Regions from separate parts of the Homo sapiens genome. Here regions 2 and 3 are each linked to region 1. Evidence: fine-mapped expression QTL. A gene starts in region 1. Each other region holds a variant in brackets. All regions are shown on one strand. Distances are from middle to middle. Region 1 holds the start of WIPI1 (WD repeat domain, phosphoinositide interacting 1). Region 2 overlaps WIPI1 (WD repeat domain, phosphoinositide interacting 1). Region 3 overlaps ARSG (arylsulfatase G).

Region 1 (6,912 bases):
CCCTGTGAATGCCCTGTGCATGCCCTAATCAGCATTTTAAAATTACAACCTGATTGTTATACAAATAAGAAGTCTCTCCATTAGATGAACTGTGGCCTGCAATTTTGTATTACCAAACATGTTTTTAATTCCCAGAGCCCAGCTTTATTTTCCCAGATTTTGCTGACTGGTAAGTAACTTACTAGTTACTTACGAGTAAGTTTTCCTAGAAATAATGGAGTTTTTTGTTTGTTTGTTTGTTTTGTTTTTCAGGGAAAAGATAGACATTTAGGAATTTCAGTTGAAAGAAAGAGAAAGGCCAAAATCTTATTCCCACTGGAACAAAGCATTGTCCCCTGCCCCACCTACCCCATTATCTTTTGCTGATGTTATTTAGTAGTGAAATTGCTGTTGCAAGAACTTGTAAGACTTAGGTTGCCCATAAGCCCAACATTCAAATCAAGAGTGTCCTCTCCCACAGAACCCAGAACTAGAATGTTAAAAAAGAAAAACCAGCCTGACATTAAATGGATTCAGCACCTCTTAAGTTATTTATAACCTTGCCCTTGGCTTTTTATATGAATGGACTTCTGGGAAATTTTTTGAGGGTGGAGCTCTTCAAAGTGGCTGCTTACACCTCTAACAGAAATCACAAACCAGCCCTCCACAAACCACATCCAGCTAGCTGATGTATTTAGTTTAGCTTATGAGGTACTTTTTGAAAATAAGAATTAGTTTTCATCATTTTTTAAATTTACCTACAAATACAGGTTTTTAATAAAATAGGCACAGATTTATATAAAAATACAGACTTACATATTGTCTTGGGAAAAATGAAATCAGATGAGGCAGCCCTGAGATGTTATTTCCACATGGCTGGTGCCATAATGGACCATTAGCCTGGAAAGAAACATATAAGGGGGACCATTCACAGGAAAGGCTGAGGCTGGGAAGGTGACCATTTTTCTCCCGTGGCCATAGCTCTAGATCCAAACCTTGATTCCAGTAAGCATGCAGTTCTGCTGCTGATTTAAAGTGTCTGAAATGAAATACAACTTCCTGAATACCTGACTGAAGATCTAGTTTCTAAAAGCAACCCAATGGGCTTCCCCTTCCCAACCATGAAATCAGCTTTGACTCTTCCCTCTTCTTCCCTGCCCCTCCCCCTTCCCCATCAGTTGCCATGCCTGTCATTTAGTCCCTCAAGACTCTACTGAGAATAAAGTAGCCACCAGCTACATGAACACTTAAAATGTGGCTCATGTGAACTGAGATATGGTGTAAGTGAAAAATACACACCGGATATTCAATATTTAGTTCTAAAAAAAAATTAAAATCTGAGGCCAGGCGTGGTGGCTCACGCCTGTAATCCCAGCACTTTGGGAGGCTGAGGCAGGTGGATCATGAGGTCAGGAGTGTGAGACCAGCCTGACCAACATGGTGAAATCCCGTCTGTATTAAAAATACAAAAATTAGCTGGGCATGGTGGCGGGGGCCTGAAGTCCCAGCTGCTTGGGAGGCTGAGGCAGGAGAATCGCTTGAACCCGGGATGGAGAGGTTGCAGTGAGCCTGGTGACAGAGCAAGACTCTGTCTCAAAAAAAAAAAAAATTAAAACCTGAATTAACTGATTAGTAACTTTATATTGATTATCTTTATATTGAAATGATATTTTTGACACATTGGATTAAATAAATGATATTATTCCAATTAATTTGCCTATTTCTACCTTTTTAAATGTATCTTCTAGAAAACTGAAATTTACAATGTGGAGTTCACATTTGGGGCTCATTTTATCTACTGGACAGCAATGCCTGAAAACAACTCTATGATTTGGTCTAATTTTCTGGCCTTGTTTTCATCACTTTAGCCTAGTCTCTCCTGTCCCTTTACTTCCAGAATTTCACATTAGTCCCCTAAAGACTTCTAGATCTTTTCCCACTTCTAATTTGTTCTGCACACCCTGGCCAAGTTTATCTGACAAAGACACTGCTTTTTTATCATGAAACACTCCTGCTCAAAAACTAACACCAGCTCCCAGGTCTATCCCATAAAGTCCAAACTCTTAATAACAAACTGATAATAACAGCTTACACTTTAAAAACTTTATGGTACACTTCATGTAATTCTCCAAACAACGTAGCACCTAGCATGCCAGATTCTAGGTTTTCTAACCAGGACAGAAATGACTGCAGCATTTGACAGAGCTGGAAGGTGGGGGGAAGCACCTTTGATCTGAAAGGTTACAAAAATGGCACAAAGTATCTAAACAGCAGTTCCATTCACTTCTGATAGTTTATACAACACCTCACAATCAGCCAAAGAGCAATAACATCTGTGAATCTATGAGCTGAACTATTTTTTACATCAGTGGAGAGAAAAAAATAATAAAGTTGAGAAAAGAAACTGTTACATTTGCATCTCAGAAAACACAAACCGGAAATCCAACCAGAAAGGTTTAGGTGAAATAGTGCCCTTTGTTCATCTATTGTAGGTCCAAGGTTAAATATATATATATATACACATACATAAAAGTAGCTTTGTCATAAACTGGGTATTAAAAGTGGGAAATGGGGAAAACCGCAATTACTTTTGCACCAACCTAATAAATTTGAATTATGCTGATTTGAGAGACTGTCATATAACAATAACTAAAATATCATCTCAAAATTTGAAAAAATGAATTAAAAATCCATCAGCAGTTATACAATCCAAAGCTGGCAGAGCTCCTGCTTCATAAACCGTATTGACAGTAATTCCGCATGGGAACATGTACAGTACTCAGCTTTTAAAAAGAGATTCTTTGTTAAGGTTTATCTCGAATTACGTGAGTTTTGAATTGTGCTATATCTTCAAGACGTTACCCCTTTCATAAACTACACTGCCCTACACACACTTTCATTTTTTTCAGCTGCGGATCGGATAGGTCTTGTTTAGATACTTTGTGCCATTTTTGTAACTTTTCAGATCAAAGGTGCTTCCCCCCACCTTCCAGCTCCGTCAAATGCTGCAGTCATTTCTGTCCTGGTTAGAAAACCTAGAATCTCGCATGCTAGGTGCTACGTTGTTTTTGCAAATTACTGTTTAGCAGTTATTTAGTGCACAGGTCTTGAAAGCAGACATGCAGACATTCTACCATTTACTGTTACTTTAGACAAATTGTTTAGCTTTGGAGCTTCAGTTGCCTCTTCTGTATATTGAGCACAATCGTATTTTCCACACAAGTTTTATAAGAATTCAAGATGACATACATAGTACGGCGCGCTTGGCAAGTAGTGAGGGTTCTCAACCGCTCGGCAATGGATAAGATAACTTGCTATCTCTCTGGCTGAGGCAGCCCCATTTCAGGAGCTTCTCTCAATGCGGCTTGAGGACTCGACAAAAGGGTGGGGCTTTGGAGTCTAACGCTCTCTGCTAAACTCTGTAAGTTTAATAGGCAGAGTTACACATGGCAAGGGGTCTGGGCGGGGTGGGAACTAGCGCGTCCTCCTGTCACCCTTGCGGCGGCCCCGACGCAGTTGCCGGACTGAAACCAGCAGATCTGGCCCCAGCCGCATTCCTTCTTCCCTCTCCCTCCCAGCTGGGCGGCTCCGGCAATGAAAACACCGCCACGTGGGCCTGCTGCCTTTGCGTCACGCGCCTTTGTCCAATGGAGAGCCGCGTTACGAAGCCAGGGGCGGGTCGCCAGCCGGGCGGGTCCGCCCACAGCTGCCACGGATTGGCCAAGGGGGGCGGTGCCCGCCAGCCGTGGCTTGGGCTCGTGGCCAATGGTGGCCGGAGGCAGGGGCCCCGCCCTATCAGGTGCTCTGGTCCTCGGGACCAGCTGGAGGGGCGAGAAGGGGCGGGGCGAAGCCGGGGACGCGGCGGGGACGGGGCGGGGTAGGGGCGGGGTGGGGACGGGGCGGGGTAGGGGCGGGGTGGGGACGGGGCGGGGTAGGGGCGGGGCAGGACCGGCGACCCGGCCCGTGGAGCCGGCGCGGGCGGGCTGCTGAGGTGGCTGTCGCCGGCTCCGAGCTGCGGCTTCCCGGGCCGAGCCCCCGATGGAGGCCGAGGCCGCGGACGCTCCCCCGGGCGGGGTTGAGTCGGCGCTCAGCTGCTTCTCTTTCAACCAGGACTGCACGTAAGCTGCGACTCGGCCCCTGCCAGGGAGGTGGGGGACAGAGTGTCAGGACCCAGGGGTGTCGTCCTGAGAGCAGCTTGTGGCTTCCGCCTCGAGGCGGCCTCGGCGGGAGGGCCGGTGTCTGCTTCGGACGCATTGGGATCTTGTTATCCCCGTACCCCTTCAGTGGGGTTTGCCGCACCCCCCACCCCACCCCACTCCCAGTGTCCTCCCAGAGCGACAAGGTTGGGCCAAGGGTGAAAGCAGGGAGTTCGCAAAGGGAGTGGTGGGGCTGCGGGGGCCACGGAATATGGGGGGAGCAGGGCGGTGGGAAAGCCAGTGACCAAAGTGGGTGTCTGGGGAAGAGAGACAGTGGCCAAAAGAAAGAGATGAGAAAGGAGAGGAAGTTGCAAGTTGACCCAGGACTCTGTAGTTGGGGCCCAGGAAGATGAGAGTACAGGAAAAACTTTCCCATTTGTCCTTGAGCATCTCAACGTGGCATCTGGGCAGGGCCTCGGACAAAGAGGCAGCCTATCCCTGCGGCCAGGCCAGCCCCTGTCCCATCCCCGACGCAGGGCATCGTGCCTGCCCGCTCTGGATGGAAGAAACCTTTGGATTTCTTTGGCTGTTTTCACATCGCCCACCCAGCCAGGCAGGATCTCCTTCTCGGAGTCCAAGACTCTTTTCCCGGGCGCAGACTGCTTTCTCTCCAGGAAACAGGAGCTCCACCCTGTTGTTTTTGAGTGGATTTTTAATGTTTTACTTCGATGTTCACATTTGGGCTTTGAGAGGGAGCTGGGCTGAAGTGTGTTTCAGGCATCTGCAGGATTCTGTGACTTACAGGCAAACGCCTGTTTCTTTCCCTATTTTCATGGAAGCGAGCCCTGGGGACCATATGGAATCATCTTTTTGGAATGTGCACCCTGAGCATCAGGCGGGGATGACCGATTCCCAGTTTCCCACTTCCTGCTGTACCAGTTTCTGTGCCTTGGCTGCTGGTGACTGAGCTACGCTAATATTGATCCTTCAGTGGTGTAATTAAGGCCATTATGTACCATTAGCCACCCTGGCTTCCATTCCCTTTATGTTTCTGTTTAAAAACACCCGGTGCTGAACAATATGCCTTTGTTTGAAAAACCCATATGTGTAATCATGTAATCGAGTAGCTCTACAGCTTGGTTATTTGAGTGACTTTCAAGTTTTTCTTGACCACAATCCACAATACGAAATATGTATTGCAACATCACCCAATACCCATAACACATACACTATTCACAAAATATCATGTGCAATTTTCTGTGTCCTTTTTTTCTAAGCTGCTTGTGACTCACTGAATTGCGTTTTAGGATCCACTCATGAGTTGAGACCTGCAGTTTATAAAAATGCTGGTATAGATAAAATCCTGATGTTCTGTAAGAAACATTTTGCAAGAGGGCATGGCTGTTGAAATGCCTGGGTGATGTTTTCCTTCCCAATTGAACACAAGTTAAGAAAGGGGGTTAGTTTGCTTGTAAGTAGTAAATGTTCTAAATTCTGCTTTGTAACATCATTAGATTTGACAAAAAAGGGTGTTAATTTATACTCTAGCCATTAAATAACGCAAAGTCCCAGCTTTCTACAGAAATTGAATAAGAATGTTATTTTCAAAACGGTAGGGTGCTTTGAAAGTTAATTTCCTTACTCCCTACTGTTAGTTTTATTTTCTTGGATGGAAGCTCTGCTGGGCAGCTTTGCCTTGCCTATAAATAAAAGTTCTTGTCACAGTCAGTTGCTTTGAGCCACAGAGGGTATGACATTGGATTTTAAAATAAGTCAAGCCCCTTACTGAATACATTTAGGTGTATTGCCATGTCTTTTTCTATAAATGTAGGCTGAATTTGGGATCCAGTATTTCCAAAGAAGGTAGGTGAAAACAGCAAACCCTTACCAGTCCCCTACGCTCATACTTCGTGATTGGTACTTGTGCTATACACTTTGGGTACTTTTTTTTTTTTTTTTTTTGAGACAGTCTTGCTCTGTCACCCAGGCTGGAGTGCAGTGGTGTGGTCTTGGCTCAGTGCAGCCTCTGCCTCCCAGGGTTCAAGCGATTCTCCTGTCTCAGCCTCTCAAGTAGCTAGGATTACAAACGTGTACCACCACACTCAGCTAATTTTTTGTATTTTTAGTAGAGACGGGGTTTTGCCACATTGCCCAGCTTGGTCTTGAACTCCTGACCTCAAGTGATCCACCCACCTCAGCCTCCCAAAATGCTGGGATTACAGATGTGACACACTATGCCCAGCCTACTTTGGGTACATTTTAAATTTGATTAATGATAAATATTTGTCCCAAGCTCTGTTTCCATGAGTGGTGATTAGAATTTTGTTTCTACAGAAAGACTTTATGGATGAAATAAGGTCTAAGTCTAAATTCCTTGATTCAGAGTCTTTTGTGGCCATTGATCAATCACGTAAAACATCACATAAAACATCACTCTGTGATTTTCTCATATGTAGAATTCTTCTGGTCCAGGAGCAGGGCTTATGTTTGAAAATTACTTTAAATTGCTGTCACTTTGCATTAATGTTATAAGACTCTAGTTACAGTATTTCTTTCCTTACTTGCAAACTTTACAAACCTCATTTCGCAGCCAAACACATCTATATTTATGTGAAAAAGTTTATGTGAAGAAAGTTTAAAAACAATAACACTACAAAATACATTTTGAAGTTTTAAGATGCTCTGGGCTTACTTTTCCAGTTGCTGTTTGTCATCATGAATACCTCAGTCTAGGTACTAAATGCCAGTTCTAAGTGCACAGCTGCAAATGTCTAACCCACCAGTTTAGCTACTTAGC
Region 2 (5,000 bases), 29 kb after region 1:
TTTTCTTTGTATACACCCGTGCTCTCTCAATCTGGAATGCAGGGTCTGGATCGTACACCTCTTTGTAAACCCCAGCCCGGAGCACAGGGCTGTGGGACAGACAGTACAAGGATGTCTCAGGATGCTTCGGATCACAGAACCCTAGCAGTGCACCTAGCATAGTCACTTTCAGATGAGAACATGAAGGCCCAGAGAGGTTTGTCCAAAGACCCCCTAGCCCATTGGTAGCATAGTAAAGAATACCTCCCAGAGCTCTGAGCTGCAGGGCGAGCTTCCCACCAGGACCTAATCCTGCAGACAAGCAGCCTCTCAGCAGTTGCCTGCTCCTGGGAACTCATATGGCAACCTTGGTTCTCAATGTGCCACCCTCTGTGTGGGGCAGAGCTGGGGGTTGTCTCTCACCAACAGAACAGTCACCCCCTTTGTCTGGCAGAGGCCTTGGGATGAAGTTCCATGACTGTAGGCGACATCCCAGGTCCCTTTGCATGATCTCCATCATTACACATGCTGGGTACCTGGGTGACTCCAGGGTTATCTACAATCAAACACCACCCAAAGTGTCTTGCCCGGAGGTTTGCTACCCACTCAGTCTGGCTCAGGAGGCCTTCACGTTGAGATCTGTCTGTTCTTCCATGAGCCCGGCACAGTCCCAAGCTTATTTAATGGTACCTGGATATCAAGTCCATCTCACTCTCTACCCTAACTCTCTTCTGGAAATCTAGGAATCAGACTAGTCATCAGATAAGCCTTCTTTAATAGGGGAAAGCAGTAGCATTGGGAACCTTTTAACAGCTTTACAATGGCTCTTCTGAAGAACAAACAAGCCCTTGATGCTCTTTAGTTATTGCCAGAATAATACGTCCTGGATTGTTCTCAGTGGGCAGAACATTATGCTAAGGCACAGTCTCTCCCTGCTGCGGGGAGTGTGGCTAATGACGCTTGGGTGTGGAGATTCCTGGGTGCGTGTGGGGCCTGCAGCCCAGTCCCATCGTTGCCTGTGCATTACTCCCTAGTCGACCAGAAGAGCCTTCGACCTGGAGTGGCTACATGGGAAAGATGTTTATGGCTGCTACCAACTACCTCCCTACCCAGGTGTCAGACATGATGCATCAGGACAGGGCTTTTGCCACTGCACGCTTGAACTTCTCCGGACAGAGGAACATCTGTACCCTCTCAACGTACGTACAATGACACCCACTCTGAACAAGACCACACTTTCGTCAATGTATTTTTCCAAAGCACAAAAATCCCCAAACCTGAAAAGAAAAAAAGAAAACTTGCCCCAGGCTGGGCACGGTGGCTTACATCTGTAATCCCGGAACCTTGGGAGGCCAAGGCAGGCAGATCATCTGAGGTCAGGAGTTTGAGACCAGCCTGGCCAACGTGGTGAAATCCCGTCTCTACTAAAAATACAAAAATTAGCCGGGTATGGTGGTGCGTGCCTGTAGTCCCAGCTACTTGGGAGGTTGGGGCAGGAGAATCGCTTGAACCCAGGAGGCGGAGGTTGCAGTGAGCCGAGATCATGCCACTGCACTCCAGCCTGGGCGACAGAGCAAGACTCCATCTCAAAAAAGAAAAAGAAAACTTGCCCCAAAGGAAGGGTGAGCGGAATCAAACCCCTGCTTTTCCTATCTGACTTCAATACGGATTCTCAGGGGGCAGCCAGAAGTTGGCATGGGAATTTTAGCCTTCTGGTTATAATGACACTGTCTTAAAAACAATTCTTATTTTTATGTAATTATGTAAAAAGCCTCCAGATCTGTTTTCTAGGTTCGGACTCCTATGGGGCTGACAGATGTTTTAAGAAGTTTAAAGGAGTTTATTCAAAAGTTGAACATTTTTAAAATTTCACAAAACTAACCAGCAAAGACAGTAAGCCAATCCTCCATTTACCCCCTTTCTGTCTTGGTTAAGGGCAGAGACACATGTCAGAGGGAGACTGCGTCCCATGTAGGGAGCTAATGTGTTCACTAGCTATTGCTTCTCGCAGGGTCGCAGCATCTACACTCACTTGCCTCATCCACACTGTCACGTTCAAAGACAAGAAATAATCCTGAAAGTAGATCCCAAGGCCAGAATGCAAAGGAATAGCCAGAAGCCCAGACCAGATCAGTGGGCTAAGGGTTTGTCAAAGGCAGAATCTGGTGACAGCTAGGGTGAGGGGGGCTTTGTCATTGGAAGCGAATCCATCGCCCATCTTCGTTGTCATCACGGTTTATGTTTTCCTTGGCCCTTAGGATCCAGAAGTTGCCACGGCTGCTAGTTGCGTCATCCAGTGGACACCTTTATATGTACAATTTGGATCCTCAGGATGGAGGAGAGTGTGTCTTAATCAAAACCCACAGGTGAAGAGACTGCTTTTCAAAAGACAGCCTTTCGAGAGCTGGTCGT[G/A]TAGAGTTGTCCCTTCGCCAAGAACGACAAGCTTCAGTGCCCTTGCATTGATTTGTTCTTCACTGGCAGTCTCAGTGGCAAACCTCTAGTGGGCAAGTGCTCTGCACCGGGCTCTGTGTCAGGTGCCCTCAGCATGTGGTAATCATCTGGAAAAGTGCCAGGATTAATAACACACAAGATGGTCTCCCCCTCAGCCTATGCTCCTAACACAGCCCTGAGCTCACAGTGGGTGTTCAAAAATATTCCCTGCCACCAGGTGTGGCGGCTCACACCTGTAATCCCGGCACTTTGGGAGGCCGAAGCGGGTGGATGGCTTGAGTCCAGGTGTTCAAGACCAGCCTGGGCAACATGGTGAAACCCCATCTATACCAAAAACAAATACAAAAATTAGCCGGTTGTGGTGGCACACACCTGTAGTCCCAGCTACTCAGGAGGCTGAGGTGGGAGAATCACCTGAGCCTGGAGAGGTTGAGGCAGTGAGCCATGATCACACCATTGCACTCCAGCCTGGACAACAGAGTGAGACCCTGTCTCAAAATAAAAAAAAAAAAAAACCTATTCCCTGCATGGAATTGAAAAGTGCTCTACCAGTCATGTTGACTCACGCCTGTAATCCCAATACTTTGGGAGGCCAAGGAGGGCGGATGGCTTGAGCTCAGGAGTTTGAGACCAGCCTGAGAAACATGGTGAAACCCCATCCTTACAAAAAGAAAAAATATAAAAATTAGCCAGGCATGGTGGTACATGCCTTGTAGTCCCAGCTACTTGGGAGGCAGAGGTGGGGGGATCACCTGAGCCCAGGAAGGTCAAGACTGCAGTAAGCTGTGGTCACACCACTGCACTGCAGCCTGGGCAACAGAGTGAGACCCTGTCTCAAAAAAGAAAAGAAAACAAAAGAAAAGCACTCATGCCTTCTGTGAACAGGCACAGACTGAGCTCTCCTGCTGTGGCCAGGGCACCAGAGCTGCCACCGCCCCCCACCGATGGCTGCTCTCCTTGCTAGCATGTCCTCACCTGTGTGTACTGGGAAGAGCAGAGGACTAATCTTTGTCTAGCCAATGTAAGAGAAAGAGGCCATTTTGACGGTGTGTGACTGCCCCTGGCAGTTGCAGGTCACTTCAGCTCATCCTGGCCCAGCAGCGTGTGGGTAGGTCTACAATTTAAACCCACAGAGTTGGCGGGCGGATCACCTGAGGTCAGGAGTTCGAGACCAGCCTGGCCAACATGGTGAAACCCAGTCTCTACTAAAAATACAAAAATTAGCCAGGCGCTGTGGTGGGTGCCTGTAGTCGCAGCTACTCGGGAGGCTGAGGCAGGAGAATCGCTTGAACCCAGGAGGCGGAGGTTGCAGTGAGCCGAGATTGCGCCACTGCACTCCAGCCTGGGCAATAGAGCAAGACCCTGCCTCAAAAATAAATAAATAACCCACAGAGCTGAGCACAGGCTTCTTCATGCTTTTCCTTTGGAAGGTGTCCTAGATATATGATGATTTCTTTTTTCTTTCACCTCCTCTTGATTGTCACAAGTAGCTTGCTTGGCTCAGGAACAACAGAAGAGAATAAAGAAAATGACCTCAGACCTTCCTTACCTCAGTCTTATGCAGCGACCGTAGCCAGACCAAGTGCATCTTCAGCCTCCACGGTGCCAGGTGGGTGGACACGGGGCCAACAGGGGAGCATCTCCAACAGTGACCTCCCTCCCCTTCTCCCTGCACGCTCCCTCCCCTTCCCCCTTCACTGTTACCTGGGGGTGGAGTGCCCTCCCTCCCCTTCCCCCTTCACTGTTACCTGGGGGTGGAGTGCTCTCCTTGAATTTTTTATTTTCTCACAGGTGAGGCCATGGTAATAGCCTTTAAACCTGGGACCCTCAACCTGGCAAGGCATCACACGATACGGTCTTTTTCCTAACAAGTGGTGTTAACCCTTTGCCTCTTCAAAAATTCCAATGAGGCCAGGCACATTGGCTCACACCTGTAATCCCAGCACTTTGGGAGGCTGAGGCCAGCGGATCACTGGAGGCCAGGGGTTTGAGACCAGCCTAGCCAACATGGTGAAACCCCATCTCTACTTAAAAAATAGAAAAATTAGCTGGGCATGTTGGCACACACTTGCAATCCCAGCTACTCCGGAGGCTGAGGCAGGAGAATTGCTTGAACCAGAGAGGCGGAGATTGCAGTGAGCTGAGATCATACCACTGCACTCCAGCCTGGGTGAAAGAGTGAGACTCTGTTTCAAAAAATAAAAACTAAACTAAAATTTCCAAAGAGCCTGTAGTCCTAGCCACTCAGGAAGTTAAATTGAGGCAGAAGGATCCCTTAGGCTCAGGAGTTCGAGACCAGCCTGGGCAACATACTGAGACCCTACCTCAACAAAGAAAAATTCAAAGAGGTAGGATGCCTCAGGCATCTGAAGTGGAAAGGCAGGTCAGGCTTAAAGATGGCAGATGGTGAGGATTATGACTTGTCCTAGGCACAGTACCTCCAGGGGGAAGACAGACAGCCCCTTTGCTTCCTTTGCCCTTTATTTGAGCCCCCGCTCCCCACCCGCCAGGTCATGGCATAAAAGCAGATCCCCAGTGCTTGTTTCATGTCTCTTTCTTGGTTTCCAGGT
Region 3 (7,274 bases), 43 kb after region 1:
TGCAACTCAATACAAGGAAGTCTATAGGGGCAAAGCCATACCACCTAAGGATTCAGCCTTCTGGTCCAATCTGGCCAGAAATAAAATTTGAAATATTTAGGAGAATGGGTAGATCTCAAAGCCTTTAGACAACCCTTTTTTATTACTGGTTTTCCACCTGTGGCTGAGAGTCAAGTTGATCAGTAGAGATTAATAGTTGTTGTCTTTGCCTACAGTTTGGAATAGAATTTGATTATTCTTCATTGCCAGTACAGGGCAGTGACATGAGCTTTGACAAACAGTTCATGCTAGGAGTAGAGACTGTGTCCCAGGACTGAGGGATCTGCCTAAGATCAAGGGAAAAATCTGAAAGACTCGTCCTAACAAAGTGTAAAACTAAGGCTTTATAAGTTCAAGGGAACTGACTACTGATTAGCTGCCAGTGAAAACAAAAATCAACACTCTCAGGTAACAGAAATCAGAATTGCTACAATGCATCACCAACAATGTCCAGCTTACAATTTTTAAGGACGACTAAATAGGAGACTCCCAGTTTCTAGTCTGGCACATAAGGAGGTCGGCAGTCATCACTTCATTCTAACAAGTAAAAAGCTGAACAAACTAAAAAATCAACAACTCAGCCGGGTGTGGTGGCTCACGCCTGTAATCCCAGCAGTTTGGGAGGTTGAGGCAGGCGGATCATGAGGTCAGGAGTTTGAGACCAGTCTGGCCAACATGGTAAAACCCCGTCTCTACTAAAAATATAAAAAATTATCTGGGCATGGTGGTGGGCACCTGTAATCCCGGCTACCTGGGAGGCTGAGGCAGGAGAACCACGTGAACCTGGGAGCCGAGATCGTGCCACTGCACTCCAGCCCAGGCAACAATGTGAGACTCCATCTCAAAAAAAAAAAAAAAAAAAAAAAAAAAAAAAATTCAGCAACTCTTATTAGGTCTTTTGGAGAAGTGAAGTCACAGGGCAAACTACTGCCCCCAAAATTAGAGAGACAGACAAGCAAATAGAAACAATCACAACTTAACAGAGCAGAAACCCACAAGCAGAAACCTCTGCAAGAACCAGTGCCAGGAGTAGGGAAGCCCTGAACTGTAATTGACAAATTGCTGGAGGCTCAGTGTGGACAAGTCTGAGAGATGAAAAACTCCAGTGGGGCCCAGTTATCAAGCGCCACCCCCCACCGCGGCACCCAAAACACAACACACTTTTGTGAGTTTTACCTCCAGGAGCTCAACCAAGTTCTTACAGTAAATACTGGAGAAAAATCTCTTCATCCTTCCAAAAGGGGTAGGAGAAAAGTAATTTTTAAATATACCAAAACATTCTAGTTTTCTTAACAAGGCCTGCCCTCAGGAGAAACTAATTTACCAGAGCTTAAATTACTTAGGTTTTTCTCACAGCCTAACTGACCTAAGGGTAGGGGGATACCCAGCTCTAGCCACTCTAGCTGTTCCACCTAAGGGGAGGGAAGGGATAGACTAAGAAGCACTTGTGAAGTTCACAGTCCAAGGGCCCAGGCTCACCAAAACTACTAAGACTTAATAATAACCTACCCAAATGAGAAGGAACCAGAAAACCAACTCTGGTAATTAATATGACAAAACAAGGCTCTTTGACACTCCCCAAAAAATCACACTAGCTCACCAGCAATGGATCCAAACCAAGAAAAAAATCCCTGATTAACCTGAAAAAGAATTCAGGAGGTTAGTTATTAAGCTAATTAGGGAGGCACCAGAGAAAGGTGAAGCCCAATGCAAGGAAATCCAAAAATCAATACAAGAAGTGAAGGGAGAAATATTCAAGGAAATAGATAGAATAAAGAAAAAACAGTTAAAACATCAGGAAACATTGGACATACTTCTAGTAATGCAAAATGCTCTGGAAAGTCTCAGCAATAGAATTGAACAAGTAGAAGAAAGAAATTCAGAGCTCGAAGACAAGGTCTTTGACTTAACCCAATCCAACAAAGACAAAGGAAAAAGAATAAGAAAATATGAACAAAGCCTCCAAGAAGGCTGGGATTATGTTAAACGACCAAATCTAAGAATAATTGGTGTTCCTGAGGAAGAAGAGAAATCTAAAAGTTTGGAAAACATATTTGGGGGAATAATCAAGGAAAACTTCCCTGGCCTTGCTAGAAACCTAGACATCCAAATACAAGAAGCTCAAAGAACACCTGGGAAATTCATTGCAAAAACATCACCAGGTAACCTATAAAGAAAAACATGAGACAAAAATACCAGGTATCCTATAAAGGAAAACCTATCAGGATTAACAGCAGATACCCTACAAGCTAGAAAGGACTGGGGCCATATCTTCAGCCTCCTCCATCAAAACAATTATCAGCCAAGAATTCTGTATCCAGCAAAAATAAGCGTCATATATGAAAGAAGGATACAAACAAATGCTGAGAAAATTCACCACTACCAAGTCACCACTACAAGAACTGCTAAAAGGAGCTCTAAATCTTGAATCAAATCCTGGAAACACATCAAAATGGAACCTCTTTAAAGCATAAAGCTCACAGGACCTATAAAACAAAAATACAATTTGAAAAGCAAAAACAAAAAAACCAAGGCACATGGGCAACAAATAGCATGAGGAATGGAATGGTACTTCACATCTCAATATTAACACTGAATGTAAATGGTCTAAATGCTCCACTTAAAAAAATACAAAACAGCAGAATGGATAAGATCACCAACCAACCATCTGCTGCCTTCGGGAGACTCATCTAACATATAAGGACTCGCATACATTTAAAGTAAAGGGGTAGAAAAAGATATTTCATGCAAATGAACACCAAAAGTAAGCAGGGGTAGCTATCTTATATCAGACAAAACCAACTTTAAAGCAACGGCAGTTAAAAAAGACAGAGACATTATACAATGGTAAAAGGCCGTGTCCAACAGGAAAACATCACAATCCTAAACATATATGCTCCTAACACTGGAGCTCCCAAATTTATAAAATAATTACTAATAACGTAAGAAATGAGATAGACGGCAACACAATAATAGTGGGGGACTTCAA[T/A]ACTCCACTGACAGCACTAGACAGGTCATCAAGAAAGAAAGTCAACAAAGAAACAATGGATTTAAACTATACCTTGTAACAAATGGACTTAACAGATATATACAGAACATTCCAACCAACAACTGCAGAATACACATTCTATTCAGTAGTGCATGGAACTTTCTCCAAGACAGACCATACAATAGGCCACAAAATGAGCCTCAATAAATTTAAGAAAATTGAAATTATATCAAGCACTCTCTCAGACCACAGTGGAATAAAACTGGAAATCCATTCCAAAGGAACCTTCAGAACCATGCAAATACATGGAAATTATATAACCTGCTCCTAAATGATCATTGAGTCAAAAATGAAATCAAGATGGAAATTTAAAAGTTCTTCAAACTGAATAATAGTGACACAACCTATCAAAACCTCTGGGATACAGCAAAGGAGGGGCTAAGGGGAAAGTTCATAGCCTTAAATGCCTACATCAAAAAGACTGAAAGAGCACAAACTGACATTCTAAGGTCATACCTCAAGGAACTAGAGAAACAAGAACAAACAAAACCCAGCAGACAAAAGGAAATAACCAAGATCAGAGCAGAACTAAATGAAATTGAAACAAAAAAATAAAAAAGATAAATGAAACACAAAGCTGGTTCTTTGAAAATATGAATAAAATTGATATGCTGTTAGCAAGATTAACCAAGAAAAGAAGAGAGAAAATCCAAATAAACTCAATAAGAAACAAAACAGGAGATATTACAACAGACATCACAAAAATACAAAAGATCATTCAAGGCTACTATGAACACCTTTGCATTTAAACTAAAAAACCTAGAAGAGATGGATAAATTCCTGGAAAAATACAACCCTCCTAGCTTAAATCAGGAAGAATTAGATACCCTGAACAAACCAATAACAAGCAGCGAGATTAAAATGGTAATTTTTAAATTACCAACAACAACAACAACAAAAGTCTAGGACCAGATGGATCCACAGCAGAATTCCACCAGACATTCAAAGAAGAATTGGTACCAACCCTTTTGACACTATTCCACATGACAAAGAGGGAACCCTCCCTAATTCATTCTATGAAGCCAGAATCACCCTAATACTACAACCAGGAAAGGACATAACCAAAAAAGAAAACTACAGACTGATATCCCTCATGAACATAGATGCTAAAATCCTTAACAAAATACTAGCTAACTGAATCCAACAACATATCAAAAAGATAATTCACCATAATCAAGGGGGTTTCATACCAGGGATGCAAGGATAGTTTAACATATACCAATAAATGTGATATGTCAATAAATGTGATACACCACATAAACAGAATTAAAAACAAAAATCACATGGTCATCTCAATAGATGCAGTAAAAGCATTTGACAAAATCCAGCATCGCTTTATGATTAAAACTCAGCAAAATCGGCATACAAGGGACATACCTCAATGTAATAAAAGCCATCTATAAGAAACCCACAGCCAGGGGGAGGAGCCAAGATAGCCGAATAGGAACAGCTCCGGTCTACAGCTCCCAGCGTTGAGCGACGCAGAAGACGGGTGATTTCTGCATTTCCATCTGAGGTACCGGGTTCATCTCACTAGGGAGTGCCAGACAGTGGGCGCAGGTCAGTGGGTGCGCGCACCGTGCGCGAGCCGAAGCAGGACGAGGCATTGCCTCACTCGGGAAGCTCAAGGGGTCAGGGAGTTCCCTTTCCTAGTCAAAGAAAGGGGTGACAGACGGCACCTGGAAAATCGGGTCACTCCCACCCGAATACTGCGCTTTTCCGACAGGCTTAAAAAACGGCGCACCAGGAGATTACATCCCTTACCTGGCTCGGAGGGTCCTACGCCCACGGAGTCTCGCTGATTGCTAGCACAGCAGTCTGAGATCAAACTGCAAGGCGGCAGCGAGGCTGGGGGAGGGGCGCCTGCCATTGCCCAGGCTTGATTAGGTAACCAAAGCAGCCGGGAAGCTCGAACTGGGTGGAGCCCACCACAGCTCAAGGAGGCCTGCCTGCCTCTGTAGGCTCCACCTCTGGGGGCAGGGCACAGACAAACAAAAAGACAGCAGTAACCTCTGCAGACTTAAATGTCCCTGTCTGACAGCTTTGAAGAGAGCAGTGGTTCTCCCAGCACGCAGCTGGAGATCTGAGAACGGGCAGACTGCCTCCTCAAGTGGGTCCCTGACCCCCGAGCAGCCTAACTGGGAGGCACCCCCCAGCAGGGGCAGACTGACACCTCACAGGGCCCAGTACTCCAACAGACCTGCAGCTGAGGGTCCTGTCTGTTACAAGGAAAACTAACAAACAGAAAGGACATCCACACCAAAAACCCATCTGTACATCACCATCATCAAAGACCAAACGTAGATAAAACCACAAAGATGGGGAAAAAACAGAGCAGAAAAACTGGAAACTCTAAAAAGCAGAGCGCCTCTCCTCCTCCAAAGGAACGCAGTTCCTCACCAGCAACGGAACAAAGCTGGACAGAGAATAACTTTGACGAGCTGAGAGAAGAAGGCTTCAGACGATCAAATTACTCTGAGCTATGGGAGGACATTCAAACCAAAGGCAAAGAAGTTGAAAACTTTGAAAAAAATTTAGAAGAATGTATAACTAGAATAACCAATACAGAGAAGTGCTTAAAGGAGCTGATGGAGCTGAAAACCAAGGCTTGAGAACTACGTGAAGAATGCAGAAGCCTCAGGAGCCGGTGCGATCAACTGGAAGAAAGGGTATCAGCGATGGAAGATGAAATGAATGAAATGAAGCGAGAAGGGAAGTTTAGAGAAAAAAGAATAAAAAGAAATGAGCAAAGCCTCCAAGAAATATGGGACTATGTGAAAAAACCAAATCTACGTCTGATTGGTGTACCTGAAAGTGACGGGGAGAATGGAACCAAGTTGGAAAACACTCTGCAGGATATTATCCAGGAGAACTTCCCCAATCTAGCAAGGCAGGCCAACATTCAGATTCAGGAAATACAGAGAACGCCACAAAGATATTCCTCAAGAAGAGCAACTCCAAGACACATAATTGTCAGATTCACCAAAGTTGAAATGAAGGAAAAAATGTTAAGGGCAGCCAGAGAGAAAGGTCAGGTTACCCTCAAAGGGAAGCCCATCAGACTAACAGTGGATCTTTCGGCAGAAACTCTACAAGCCAGAAGAGAGTGGGGGCCAATATTCAACATTCTCAAAGAAAAGAATTTTCAACCCAGAATTTCATATCCAGCCAAACTAAGCTTCATAAGTGAAGGAGAAATAAAATACTTTACAGACAAGCAAATGCTGAGAGATTTTGTCACCACCAGGCCTGCCCTAAAAGAGCTCCTGAAGGAAGCACTAAACATGGAAAGGAACAACCGGTACCAGCCACTGCAAAATCATGCCAAAATGTAAAGGCCATCGAGACTAGGAAGAAACTGCATCAACTAACGAGCAAAATAACCAGCTAACATCATAATGACAGGATCAAATTCACATGTAACAATATTAACTTTAAATGTAAATGGACTAAATGCTCCAATTAAAAGACACAGACTGGCAAATTGGATAAAGAGTCAAGACCCATCAGTGTGCTGTATTCAGGAAACCTATCTCACCTGCAGAGACACACATAGGCTCAAAATAAAAGGATGGAGGAAGATCTACCAAGCAAATGGAAAACAAAAAAAGGCAGGGGTTGCAATCCTAGTCTCTGATAAAACAGACTTTAAACCAACAAAGATCAAAAGAGACAAGGCCATTACATAATGGTAAAGGGATCAATTCAACAAGAAGAGCTAACTATCCTAAATATATATGCACCCAATACAGGAGCACCCAGATTCATAAAGCAAGTCCTGAGTGACCTACAAAGAGACTTAGACTCCCACACATTAATAATGGGAGACTTTAACACCCCACTGTCAACATTAGACAGATCAACAAGACAGAAAGTCAACAAGGATACCCAGGAATTGAACTCAGCTCTGCACCAAGCGGACCTAACAGACATCTACAGAACTCTCCACCCCAAATCAACAGAATATACATTTTTTTCAGCACCACACCACACCTATTCCAAAATAGACCACATACTTGGAAGTAAAGCTCTCCTCAGCAAATGTAAAAGAACAGAAATTATAACAAACTATCTCTCAGACCACAGTGCAATCAAACTAGAACCCAGGATTAAGAATCTCACTCAAAACCGCTCAACTACATGGAAACTGAATAACCTGCTCCTGAATGACTACTGGGTACATAAT

What was found. PIP is the estimated chance that this variant, and not a neighbour inherited with it, causes the effect. A credible set is the group of variants that fine-mapping cannot tell apart.
Region 2: its variant is the best candidate, but not a certain one, in a credible set for the expression of WIPI1 in thyroid (GTEx, PIP 0.89).
Region 3: its variant is the best candidate, but not a certain one, in a credible set for the expression of WIPI1 in whole blood (TOPMed, PIP 0.74).

Annotation. Positions count from the first base shown.
Region 1 is chr17:68,454,527-68,461,438 of GRCh38, reverse strand. It overlaps WIPI1 (WD repeat domain, phosphoinositide interacting 1), which reads left to right and starts at 3,943. Exons shown (of 13, transcript NM_017983.7): 1 at 3,943-4,097. The coding sequence starts at 4,018. It also overlaps a transcript of PRKAR1A not described here. RefSeq lists silencers at 3,501-3,787, 3,524-4,203.
Region 2 is chr17:68,426,174-68,431,173 of GRCh38, reverse strand. WIPI1 (WD repeat domain, phosphoinositide interacting 1) reads left to right here. Exons shown (of 13, transcript NM_017983.7): 9 at 1,014-1,178; 10 at 2,238-2,345; 11 at 3,921-4,039; 12 at 4,999-5,000. It also overlaps a transcript of ARSG not described here and a transcript of PRKAR1A not described here. Among named protein-coding and RNA genes, the nearest start is that of MIR635, 4.1 kb to the right of the region's middle. The variant G/A (reference allele first, on the strand shown) is at 2,392.
Region 3 is chr17:68,411,374-68,418,647 of GRCh38, reverse strand. All of the region lies in intron 11 of ARSG (arylsulfatase G), which reads right to left. It also overlaps a transcript of PRKAR1A not described here. Among named protein-coding and RNA genes, the nearest start is that of MIR635, 9.5 kb to the left of the region's middle. RefSeq lists enhancers at 4,667-4,716, 4,212-4,868, 4,869-5,527. The variant T/A (reference allele first, on the strand shown) is at 3,029.